Linked DNA regions of Homo sapiens: region 1 is linked to region 2. Evidence: fine-mapped expression QTL. A gene starts in region 2. The other region holds a variant in brackets. All regions are shown on one strand. Distances are from middle to middle. Region 1 overlaps MCF2L2 (MCF.2 cell line derived transforming sequence-like 2). Region 2 holds the start of B3GNT5 (UDP-GlcNAc:betaGal beta-1,3-N-acetylglucosaminyltransferase 5).

What was found. PIP is the estimated chance that this variant, and not a neighbour inherited with it, causes the effect.
Region 1: its variant is fine-mapped to the expression of B3GNT5 in fibroblasts (GTEx, PIP above 0.99).

The regions. Positions count from the first base shown.
Region 1 is chr3:183,210,993-183,216,368 of GRCh38, reverse strand. MCF2L2 (MCF.2 cell line derived transforming sequence-like 2) reads left to right here. Exons shown (of 30, transcript NM_015078.4): 22 at 275-400. Among named protein-coding and RNA genes, the nearest start is that of B3GNT5, 40 kb to the left of the region's middle. The variant C/T (reference allele first, on the strand shown) is at 2,359.
Region 2 is chr3:183,250,628-183,256,003 of GRCh38, reverse strand. B3GNT5 (UDP-GlcNAc:betaGal beta-1,3-N-acetylglucosaminyltransferase 5) reads right to left here and starts at 2,751. Exons shown (of 2, transcript NM_032047.5): 1 at 2,532-2,751. The region is part of intron 15 of MCF2L2 (MCF.2 cell line derived transforming sequence-like 2); the gene reads left to right. LOC124906310 (a long non-coding RNA gene) reads right to left here. Exons shown (of 3, transcript XR_007096189.1): 2 at 5,139-5,220; 3 at 3,449-3,469.

The DNA.
Region 1 (5,376 bases), 40 kb after region 2:
TTATGTAGCAGGAATATAATTTCCATGATTTATGAACTTCATTCGTCACTAGTACAATGCACAGAGGTAGATGATTTTGCTTGTCTCTATGCCGTATACCTAAATCAGTAAGCATCTTTAGCCACCATGCTTTGGGAGCAGGGAGACAGATCAATATCCACCCTTCTCAGTCAGGGTTGGCTGGATCCCTGGCTCCTCATCTCTGTCCTGTTTTCCTTCTTCACTTTGCAGATGGTATACTTTTGATTTCCAACAAGGCATTTGTTTTCCACAGGATGGGCCAAAGAGAACCAAAGATTCAGCATTCTCAACTGAACTACAACAAGCTTTGGCAGTGATAGAGGATTTGATCAAGTCCTGTGAGTTGGCTGTGGACCTAGCAGCAGTGACTGAATGTCCGGTATGTTCCATAGTAGTGTTAGAGCATCTCACACAAAAGGCAGGTGCAATACTACACAGTGAGGAAATGCTCTGGCAAAGTCAGAGAGATCGTCTATGGTAAAGGAATTGGACTCTGAGGACAGTCGCCTAAATTGCTCAGTAAACCCGCACTACAAGATTCCAAGCTGTCCCTTGGCATCTTCAGGAATCTTGGATTTATTCCTCAGGGTTCTGAATGTGGGACTGACCCACTGTCTGGACAAACCAGAAAGTCAAGGGCCAGAACATATATGGGCAGAGGAAAAGTCCTGGAGGAGCAATTTATTTTCTAACTCATGGCACTATTAAAATAGTAAAAGATTTGTCTTCTTGTTTCAGAGTTTCTCTAAGAAAAGTATTTTGGAAACAGGTCCTATATTCTTGCCCCAATTTTATATCACAGATCCCAGAAGAGGCCCCAAAAGTATATAGTGTACATGCATTAATCCAAATAGTCTAAAGAAAACCCAAGAGATGCAGTTAGAGGCCAATGCTGGGGAGTTGAGCTCCAGCGTCAGTGTTAATCCGGAGCAGGCTGGTCCCAGGCATTCCAGGCAAAACATCCCCTATAACTGTATGATCTCTTTGAGACTGGAGCATAGTTAATATTCGACTTGTTTTGTTTTTTACTTTGAAGTACTCTAGATTTTTATTCAGATGTGTTTGTTTTATTTCACTGTCATAATAAATTACCATAAGCTTGGTGGCTTAGAGCAGCACAAATTCATTATTATTATTATTTTGAAGTTCCAAGGTCAGAAGTTCAACACAGTCTCATGGGCTAAAATCAAGGTGTTTCCTTTCCTTTTTGGAGTCTAGCATCTGTCTCCTGGAATTTTCCAGCTTAAAAAGGCCACCCACGCTCCATGGCTCATGGCTTCTATGAGCAGAGGTAATAAAGCACAAACCAGCAATGGCAGGTTGGGTTCTTCTTCTTTTTGTTTGTTTGTTTTTGAGACAGAGTCTTGCTCTGTCGCCCAGGCTGGAGTGTAATGGCATGATCTCAGCTCACTGCAACCTCTGCCCGCCAGGTTCAAGCGATTCTCCTGTCCCAGCCTCCTGAGTAGCTGGGACTACAGGCACTTGCCACCACACCTTGCTAATTTTTTTTTTTTTTTGTATTTTTAGTAGAGACGGGGCTTCTCCATGTTGGTCAGGCTGGTCTCGAACTCCTGACCTCGTGATCCACCCATCTCCGCCTCCCAAAGTGCTGGGATTACAGGTGAGAGCCATCGTGCCCGGCCAAGTTTTTCTTACATCACATCTCTGTGACCCCCTCTTCTGCGTTTTTGTCACTTGTGATTATATTATACTTTTTCCTTCTCTTTTTTTTTCTTTTCATTTTTATTTGGTTTTGAACATACCATGTATTGAGGTCTTGGTAGAGGAAATGACTTTTCTTTCCTTGTCATAAATCAAACCATGAAAGTTATTAAGGTCCGAAAAATGAGTTATTTTTACTTCCCACGCTGGTATTTCTTGGGCCTGGATCTCAGAAACTTAGCCCCATGGGGTTTGCTGTGATCCCAGCCATGATGCTGTTACTGTCCCCTGGGACTCCAAGGTGTCTCTGATGACAACTGATGCATGATTCAAGAGGATATGCATAAACTGCAGAGTAGGGTTAGGGTGTGTATAAGGATCATTTTCTTGGTAATAATTCTTCTTTCTTCGCCTGAGGAAAGTCAAGGGAACAATTTGTTAGGTCAATCCAGGGCATCTTTCTGTTCCTTTTTAAATCTTGAATTACGTATTAGACATCCCTATTAAATTTCATTTCCCTGAATCTAATGAATGTCCTGGAAACAATACACAGGGCAGGAAACAGTGTAAATAACATAGGAGGAGGAGGCTGTGAGAAAAGAATGGTTAAAACATGAGCAAATAACATTCTGCCCTAATTTCATTCCCAGCCAGTTTGCATGCAAATAGGATGAA[C/T]CAGCTTACAGAATTTGGAGATTTTACACGCAAAAAGCAAAGGACCTTTTTTGACCATGTGTCCTCAGAATTGTGCCTCTGCCAGATGCTTTTTGGTACCTTTTCTACTAAGACTTAACTTACTTTTACATCTAATACATCAGCTAATTTCTCCTGACAGTTTTGTATAATCCTGTTGAATTATGGAGGAGTAGATATTGGAATTTTCAACCTTCTGATTCAAAAGAAGATCCATGGAAAGAAGAGTTAACTCACTCAAGATTACATGGCTGTCACCTTGGACTATTTCTTGTTCATTCCCTATCAGGGTGCTATTCCACTCTTTATCTGTTTCTGATTAGAATTGACTGACAACTGCCTCTAACTCAGCTCAAATGATTCTGAGATTCTTTGTCTCCATTTTGTAGAGTTTTATTACAGGTGTTTATGATCACCTGTAATAAATTACAGCTATATGCATGGCTGAGTCCAGTTTAACCTCTTAGTTTCTCTGCTTGAAATTTAATATTAACCTGGTTTTATAAAGGAAAGAAATTGAATGTGATAATTAAATTATCACAATTAAACAACTAGAAAGCAACTAGAAAAAAATCCCTTCTGATATTTATATTTTCTTGTTTTTCTGTGTACTCAATTAGTCCTGGGTCTAATTTAATCACAGAAGTTTAAAATTCTTTTCCAAACAAGTTTGTTTTGTGGAACACTGAGTTATAATTTACTTCTATCTATTTGCAAAAAAAAAACAAAAGTTTTTTTTTTTTTCAAATCCAATGCATATTAGAGATGCATTTAAATTCTGACTTGCCAGGGATAAGTTCCAAAGTTGACTTGTAAAGATTGAATGAAACAGTCTTCCTTTTTGGAACAAATTTATATAAACCACTAAAGGATGTACTTGTATTGTAAGTTCATTGTGAGCTAGGGCCAGGATTTTATTTCTATTTCAGTTTCCTCTTTCCTTACCACAGTGTTAGCTGCAGAGATAGGGCTAAGTAAATAATCCTAGTGACCCAGGCAAAGTATCTTCTTCATTCCCCACCCCCCCACCCCCCCCACCCCCCCACAATACCTATATTACAGGCGGTTGCCGGGAGTAAGTGAGAATTAAATGATGGGTAAGGCACCAAGCACTGTGCCTGGCGCCCAACAGATGCCGAATAAACAGCCCTAGTGGTACGTTATATGGGGACCTGCTCAAGCTGGAAAGGAAGATACCTCTTTGCCCCTGACTATTGTAATCACAGGCTCCCACAGCTTCTGCTTTTCATTTCTGGACTCAGGCTCTGTGTGGACGCATTTATACAGATGTTTCCTGCTTCTTTGTGCAGTAAGTTTGTGACAGTCATATTAACTCTTACTACCTGGAATGGAAACACGGGCACCCAAAAGAAGCTCTTGCTGAGGCCAGCTTCCCTAGATTCACTCTCTCAGCCAGACTCTTCATTTGGCCAATGTAGTCACATTTGAAATCCTTGTATCGGGGCTCTTACCTGCAGAATGCCCAGGTGTGAAAGTGGTAGCATTTACTAATTGATTTTGCTATCACTTCTTGTACAGAGGAGGCCATCTAACTTATCGCTCGCTCATTTGAGGTAGCCGCTATGTTCCATCTCTGAGTTCACAACCATCAGGTTCTTCCACACACCGTGTGACATGGCCACACTTCTTTGTTACTGGTGGAAAACAGTTGGAAGTATATTCGTTTCCTAGGGCTGATGTCGCAAGGAACCACAAAGTACGTGACTTAAAACAACAGAAATTTATTCCCTCACAGTTTTGACGGCTAGACGTCCAAAGGCAAGGTGAGAGCAGGCCCACGTTCCCTCTGAGGGCTCTCAGGAAGAATCCTTCCTTACCTCGTCTGAGCTTCTGGTGACTGCCGGCAATTCTTGGAGTTCCTTGGCTGACAGCTGTGCCACTCCAATTTCTGCCTCTGCCTTTGCATGGCTGTTCCCTCAGCGTGCGTCTCCATTTCTTTGTTTTCTTTTTTTATAAGGATACCAGTCATTGGATTTGGACCCATCCTAACCCAGGGCAACCCCATCTTAACCAATTGTATCTGCAAAGACCCTCTTTCCGAATAAGATCATATTTTGAGGGTCTCATAGACATGAGTTTTTGGGGGAACACTATTCAACCCAGTACAGGGGCGTCGCTGAATGAACTCCTTGGATAAATCAATATTCCCTCACAGTGATGAGTATTTTGTTTCCTGTCCCCTACTCCCAAGCACCACTAAATGCCAATAAATAAATAAATACTAGGGAATGCCAATAAATAAATAAATACTGGTGAACACGTATCTGAAAGAGGTTGTGCAACGTGGTCTCCGACCTTGAGATCAACTACAGTCTAGTTGGAAAGAAAAGGTACACGTGACGGAAAAGGTCATTCTTGCTCCTGCTCAGGGAATGTCCCTGCAGCTTCCTGTTGGAGGCGGAGCAGCTCCACACAGCACAGTGAACAGTGTGTGTGCCTGCCCTTGGTCAGCACCGTGTAGGGCATGTGCTCACCCGCTGGAGATCGGACCTTGGGCGTGGAGATGGGCAATACCGTCATATGTGTGGTCCTGAGAACATTTGTGCAACATGACCCAGAGGATATGTGCCCATATGTTTCTGCCAGACTTGAAAGACCCAGCGACTCCCCCCGAGTCACTTCCAGTAATAATGGGCTTACTGGAAAGCTGACCTGCAGCTTCTCAAGAAGTCACGATGGCAAAGCCAAGTTCGCGGAGATGGGAACTGAGCAAACCCAGGATCCACAGCACCTCTGGGGCCTGGGCCTGGGGAGGGAGCCGGGGTTCTTACCTGTGTGACCCGCCTGTATATGTCAAGTGCACCCACATGCCTGCTCGCCCCCCCTCTTACCACCTACTGACTGTTTTTTTCCCTTCCGTCAGTTTCTTCCTCTTCCTCATAATTTCTAATGACTCACCTTCTTCATAGTTCTGTTTCCTTCTCGTTTATTCCACTGCCTGCTTTCCCCTAAAGCATCTCACAGCCCCGTCTCCTGCTG
Region 2 (5,376 bases):
TCTGAAATGCAGATTCTAGTGCAATTGGGCCTCAGAAAGAACTGGACCCTTTACAATGTGAAAGTCACCAAGTGCAATGATTCTAGCCAAAGTGACCCATTTTAAAAGATGACCCATTTCAAAACCCATGAGTTATTATTCAAGCTGTTCTATTTTTGAGAATTAGAAAGTTTTCTTTTTCTTTTTTTTTTTTTTTACAATCTCACCATTTGAATGTCTTTTATGAAAAGAGAAAACTGATCACCATTTTAATGAAATACAATGTTTCATTTTTTACTTGATGGGGCCTGCACTTTATTTTGAAAACTCTTCTGCACCTTCTGAGTTTTCTCTGGGCAGAGCAGTTATAAGCATCTCTACCTCCTACTCATCCTCATCTCCCACTTTCTCAGGAACAGCTGCTCTGAGCTTTGGCTTGGGCCTTTCCTGTGATAACACTGGTTCTACCTTAGAGCCTTGCAGGGCCGGGAAGGGTCAGCCTGAGTCAGCCTCCTCCTCAGAGTGCTCAGTCAATGCTCAGAGCGTGTGCGGGAGGATAAGGAAGAGTGAGAAGGACAAGCAGGTTAAGTACAGAATGGAAACCTTTCTGGTATTGCGTTTAGCTTGCTTTAAAAGCAAAGAGTTGGCCCCAAAAAGCAGCTTTCACCTCCTCACTTGTGACCAGATAGAAAATCTACCATAAATTTATTTTGAGAAAGTTATAACGTCTGCTGCTGATCACTAATCACCCTTTCAGAAAGTTCAGGGTGGAATCATTTCGGTGCCACCACTTAATACAACTACCTTCAATCATCCTTTTCTGGGTCAACTTCGGCTTTTCACATTCCTCTCCCATCCCCCACAGGGAACAGGCAAGGTTTCCCAAAATAAAGGCACAGACGCACAAATCCAATTCTGATGGATGTACTTTCATCAGATAATTACCATAAATATGAGCCTCAGGCCACCATCGGCCACTGTGCGGTTACCACATCGGTGTACCTTTAACATGATCCATAACCTAAGAAAACCAACACCGGCCAAGAATGTACAGGGTGTAGTCAAGAGTCGAGTTGAAAACTGTTACTTTTACCTATATGGTATCCAAGCAAGCAATTGCCTCTGTCACATCAGGATTCAAAATGAAATGAGGCAGAGTCAAAGGAAAGAGTGGCCACGACCTCCCCGCCAGGGAGATCTGCGGCTGCAGTCTCCCCGCCTGCCCACTTCCCTGTCCCCATTTCCCCCGCCAGTAACTCGCCGAAAGCGTTCTCAGGTTGGCGGTTTCTTCTTTCCAGCCCGACACGGGCTTTCGACTCGAATTCAGCCCTCCAGCCGGAGGCGGGTGGCCGCAAGCCTGGGGCCCCCGGCCGGCAACCGAATTGGTGGGCGCGGCGTTCGCCTCGCGGCTCCCGCGCACGGGCCTGTCCCGCCACCGAGGAGCCGGAGCTCCTCAGGGACGGGGACCCGCAGGCCCCGGGAAGCCGCCCCAACCGGAGCTGCCCGGCCCCCGAGCCTACCTGCCGCACCTGGGCGGCGGCCCGGCCTGGGTCCCAGCCGCTGGCCACCCGCGCGGGCAGGCCGGAGGGAACAAAGGCGTTCCGGGGAGGGGACGAGCCTCCTTCTCCGCCGCGCTTTCAGAGGGCGGGCTGCCGGGGCCCGCGGTGGGAGAGGCCTCCCCGGCTTCCCGACTTCCCGGCGCTGGGCCGTGCGCGGTCCGGGCCAGGGCGGCGGGCCCCGATCCGGTGTCCACGCCAGCCACGCGCCCCCGGCCCAAGCGCGCGTTCCCACCTGAAGTCCTGGCGCCACCCGCCGGGCGAGGGCCGGCGTGCCCTCACCTCCTCGCCACTCTTCTCCTCCAGAGACCTCGCTCGGCCCGGAGTGGGCAGACTCGGAGCCTCCCGCGCCGGAGACCGCGAGCCGCTCGGCCGAGGAGGCGCGGCGGGGCGGGGGCGGGGCGGAGGGGCCGGCCCGCAGCCCCCAATGCCGGGAGCCCGCGCTGGAGACCCAGGGAGCCCAGCTCGGGGCCGCGGCACGGAGAACGAACCATCCGTGGCCTGGAGACGTATCCCGCCGAGCGGCCAGAACTTTCCCCATTTAGCGATCCGGAAAGGAAGCCAACACTCCCACCCAGAGAGGCCTCGGCCGCGGAAAGATGCGGCCGCGGCACAGCCGTGTTTTCACCACGTAACTGACCACAGACTAACTCCGCGCGGAACCACCGGCCCAGGGCGCTCCGCCAAGAGGCGGACTGTGCTGGCCTCGCGGGCCCTACGCCCAGGGAACGCCGCGGTTCCTCCCACACGGGACACCGGTTCCGCAGCGCCGCGGATTAGGATGGTCTTTTACTTTCCGAGCGGGAGCTCTAACGCAGGCTCAGGCGGGTCTTGTTAAAAGGTTTCTGGTCACACCACTTATGCGTGGAGCTCTGGGGGCCTCAGTAACAAAGTAAGGAAACTTACAGCAAACTAGGGCTGCACTGCCGCTGTCCGTTTCTAAAATACGAGAAGAGGGGGAAACCCCGCCCCAGGCCAGCTTCCCAGTGACTTTACCTCCAAGTCCAGCTTCATTTCAAGGGCAGTTTAGAGCGAAACTCACGAAGTTCAAGCCCAGCTCTTTAAATGTCCAAATCGGAGGTCGGCTTTCCTTCCCGCATCGGAGCTAAAGTCGCTGGTCTCAAGAACAAAACTTGCGGGCTTTAAATCTTGGGCGAGGACTGGACGGGCAGCGCTGGACTGGGCTCGCTTCCCCGGCGGGATGCGGGCTGTATGCGGGCGGGATGGGGGCGGGCCCGGGCGGGGGCGCGAGGCTCCCAGCCGCGCGCCCCGCACTCTCGGCGTCACGGCCCGAGCCCGGCCCCGCCCGCCAGCCGCCACCCTCCCGGCGCGTAGGTGAAGGTGATGGGCCCCGCCCCAGTTTGTTCTTGTCTGTAGATGAGAATTCCAGGAAGTGTTTCCCTGCCGCTCGTCAGTTAATTGCGATCACTTACTCAAATGGCCAACTGGAAGCCAGAGTGCACATGAATGTCCTCTTTGAGCTATTTTCCTCCTTTAGAATACTTCATGCAGGTAACCAGACAATATCGAGAGATGCGGACTTCTACTCAACGAGAGAGATTATAAATGAATCCTGGATGCGCTTGATTTCTTGTTTCCCGCATGTTGTTAGACCTCTCCCTAAAGCCACAAAACATTTAACGGAGATAATATTTTGAGCGATTCTGTTATTGTACATATTTCAGAACATGACAGAAAAGCAAAAGATTAACCCAAATACTTTAGTAAAATAAAAGCTTTGAGTTTGTCGTAAAAGGAACAAGACAGGTAATGAGTTAAATGTATGATTGTCGAATCAGGGTTTAAAACAGTGGGGCCAGCAGACACGGTGGCTCACACCTGTAATCCCATCACTTTGGGAGGCTGAGCCGCAGGAGGATTGCTTGATCCCAGGAGTTAGAGACCAGCGTGGCCAACATAGCAAGACCCCATCTCTAAAAGAAAAAACACACACACAAAATGAAAACTGTTGTTCATTCAAACTAGATTTTTAGGAAGTTTTTAAATTGCTTTCCTTAAGCTGGTCAGCATCTTTTAAATCATGCAGTTCTTTTCATATGCTGCCTACACAGGGCATGGCTCAGCATCTCCCAGACTGTGGCACTGCATGTTCATCAGACCACAGACAGAAATATTTACATGTGTGATTTGCAAAGGAGTCATTGACAGTGACCCACAAATAAGCTGATTCATTGTTAATACAGCACTAATGACATACCTTCTCTAATAAAATGCTGACTGAAATCCCACATGCATTTCCCCCAGCCATCACATGTGTATGTTGTATATCTGTGCAAATATTCAATTACAATTATATTCCTTTCAGATCATTTGGAGCTAGGTCCATGTGTCAGTATACATATGTTCCACATACATGAGCACATAGAACTGTACCCACGAGAAATACAAACTGACCAAAACAGTGGTAGACACACATACAAATCACATATTCACATCATACTAGATACAGATAAACACACCAGATAGATAAATGGTTTCAAAAGTATGTCTGGAGATTGGAAATACGATGCAAGTTTTTTGGTGGTAGGAGGGAGAGATGAGAGGGTGTGAAGGAGAGATAGGCAAGGTCAAGTAGTCCAGAATGCCCACTCTGGGATCCACACAAGCTCAGATCACACATGCGAGAGGACAGGCAAGTCCCCTTTGCTTGTTAGGGAAGATTTCCTAGAGCAGCCTGGCTTCCTGTCCCACCCAGAGAGAGGGGAAGAGAATGACAGATTTGATGGTATTGATGGTGCTATGCTCAGTTACTTTTATCAAGAGGGAGTGCATGAAGATATTGAGATGTGTTAGAAATAAACTTAGGTAATAATAATGATGCTGACTTGGCCAGCATGAAGAAGGAGGACCGTGTTGGCATGCTTTCCTTATCCAAGTAGCAGCTGGTAAGCAGAGAGCCCTGTGATTAGATCTATACATGACTTTGGAATGACCAAAATCTGCATGTTAGACTCGGCAGGGATAGATAAGGCACAGAAAGAGCAGAGGAGTAGCAGATTTAGGAGAGATGATCAGAGAGTAAGGCACATGCATCATTAGTAGTGGGGAGGGGAGACTAAACCCTGAGTACAAGAGAACCTGGGAGATGGTGGGAGCAACAGGGGCCCAAGGAAGAGGCCTGTGTTACTAAAATCATGAAAGGAGAAGCAGGTCTGATAACCGAGTGGCTTAACACAGCTGAAGTGTAGCAGCAGTATCAGGCTTGACCTGTTTAGCGAAATTTGTCTTTCTGGATTCTGTTAGACCAGATTTCCTCACAGGCCCTATAGGGAACCTGTCCAGTGAATCTGTGAATTCAAACACATCACGGGCCATGTATTCTGAAGCAGGCCGGTGTTCATTCAAGGCCTGGGCTGTTAGAGAGACTCTGGTTGTTTCCTGACCTGGCTTCCTACACAGGATCTCTGGCAAGTTAGCAAACTTCTCTGTGCCCACAGTAATACCTGCCTGCAAGGGTGGGTGAGGATTAGTGCAATCGCAGTGACGGGTGGAGTGCTGAGCTCAGAGCCTGGGCTATCCCAATGGGCGGATGAATGGTCAGCATCCTTGAGCCCATCACAGGTTGCAGAAAGCTCCTCTCACCTGGCAGAGGTAGGCTCATGCTGTGTCCTGTCATCGTGCTGTAAAGGATCTGCTGTGTTTCACACCTCTGGGAATTTCACATCTGTTGATACAGCATCACCATTCAGACGATGCCCTATCTCCTTGGCTCCGCCGCCTCTTTCTCTGCCCCCCGGCCACCTCCCACCACACGCAGCCTTCCTTGGTGTTCTCTTCTCCGCACACATGCTCCTTGCTGATCTCACCCATTGTCTTTAAT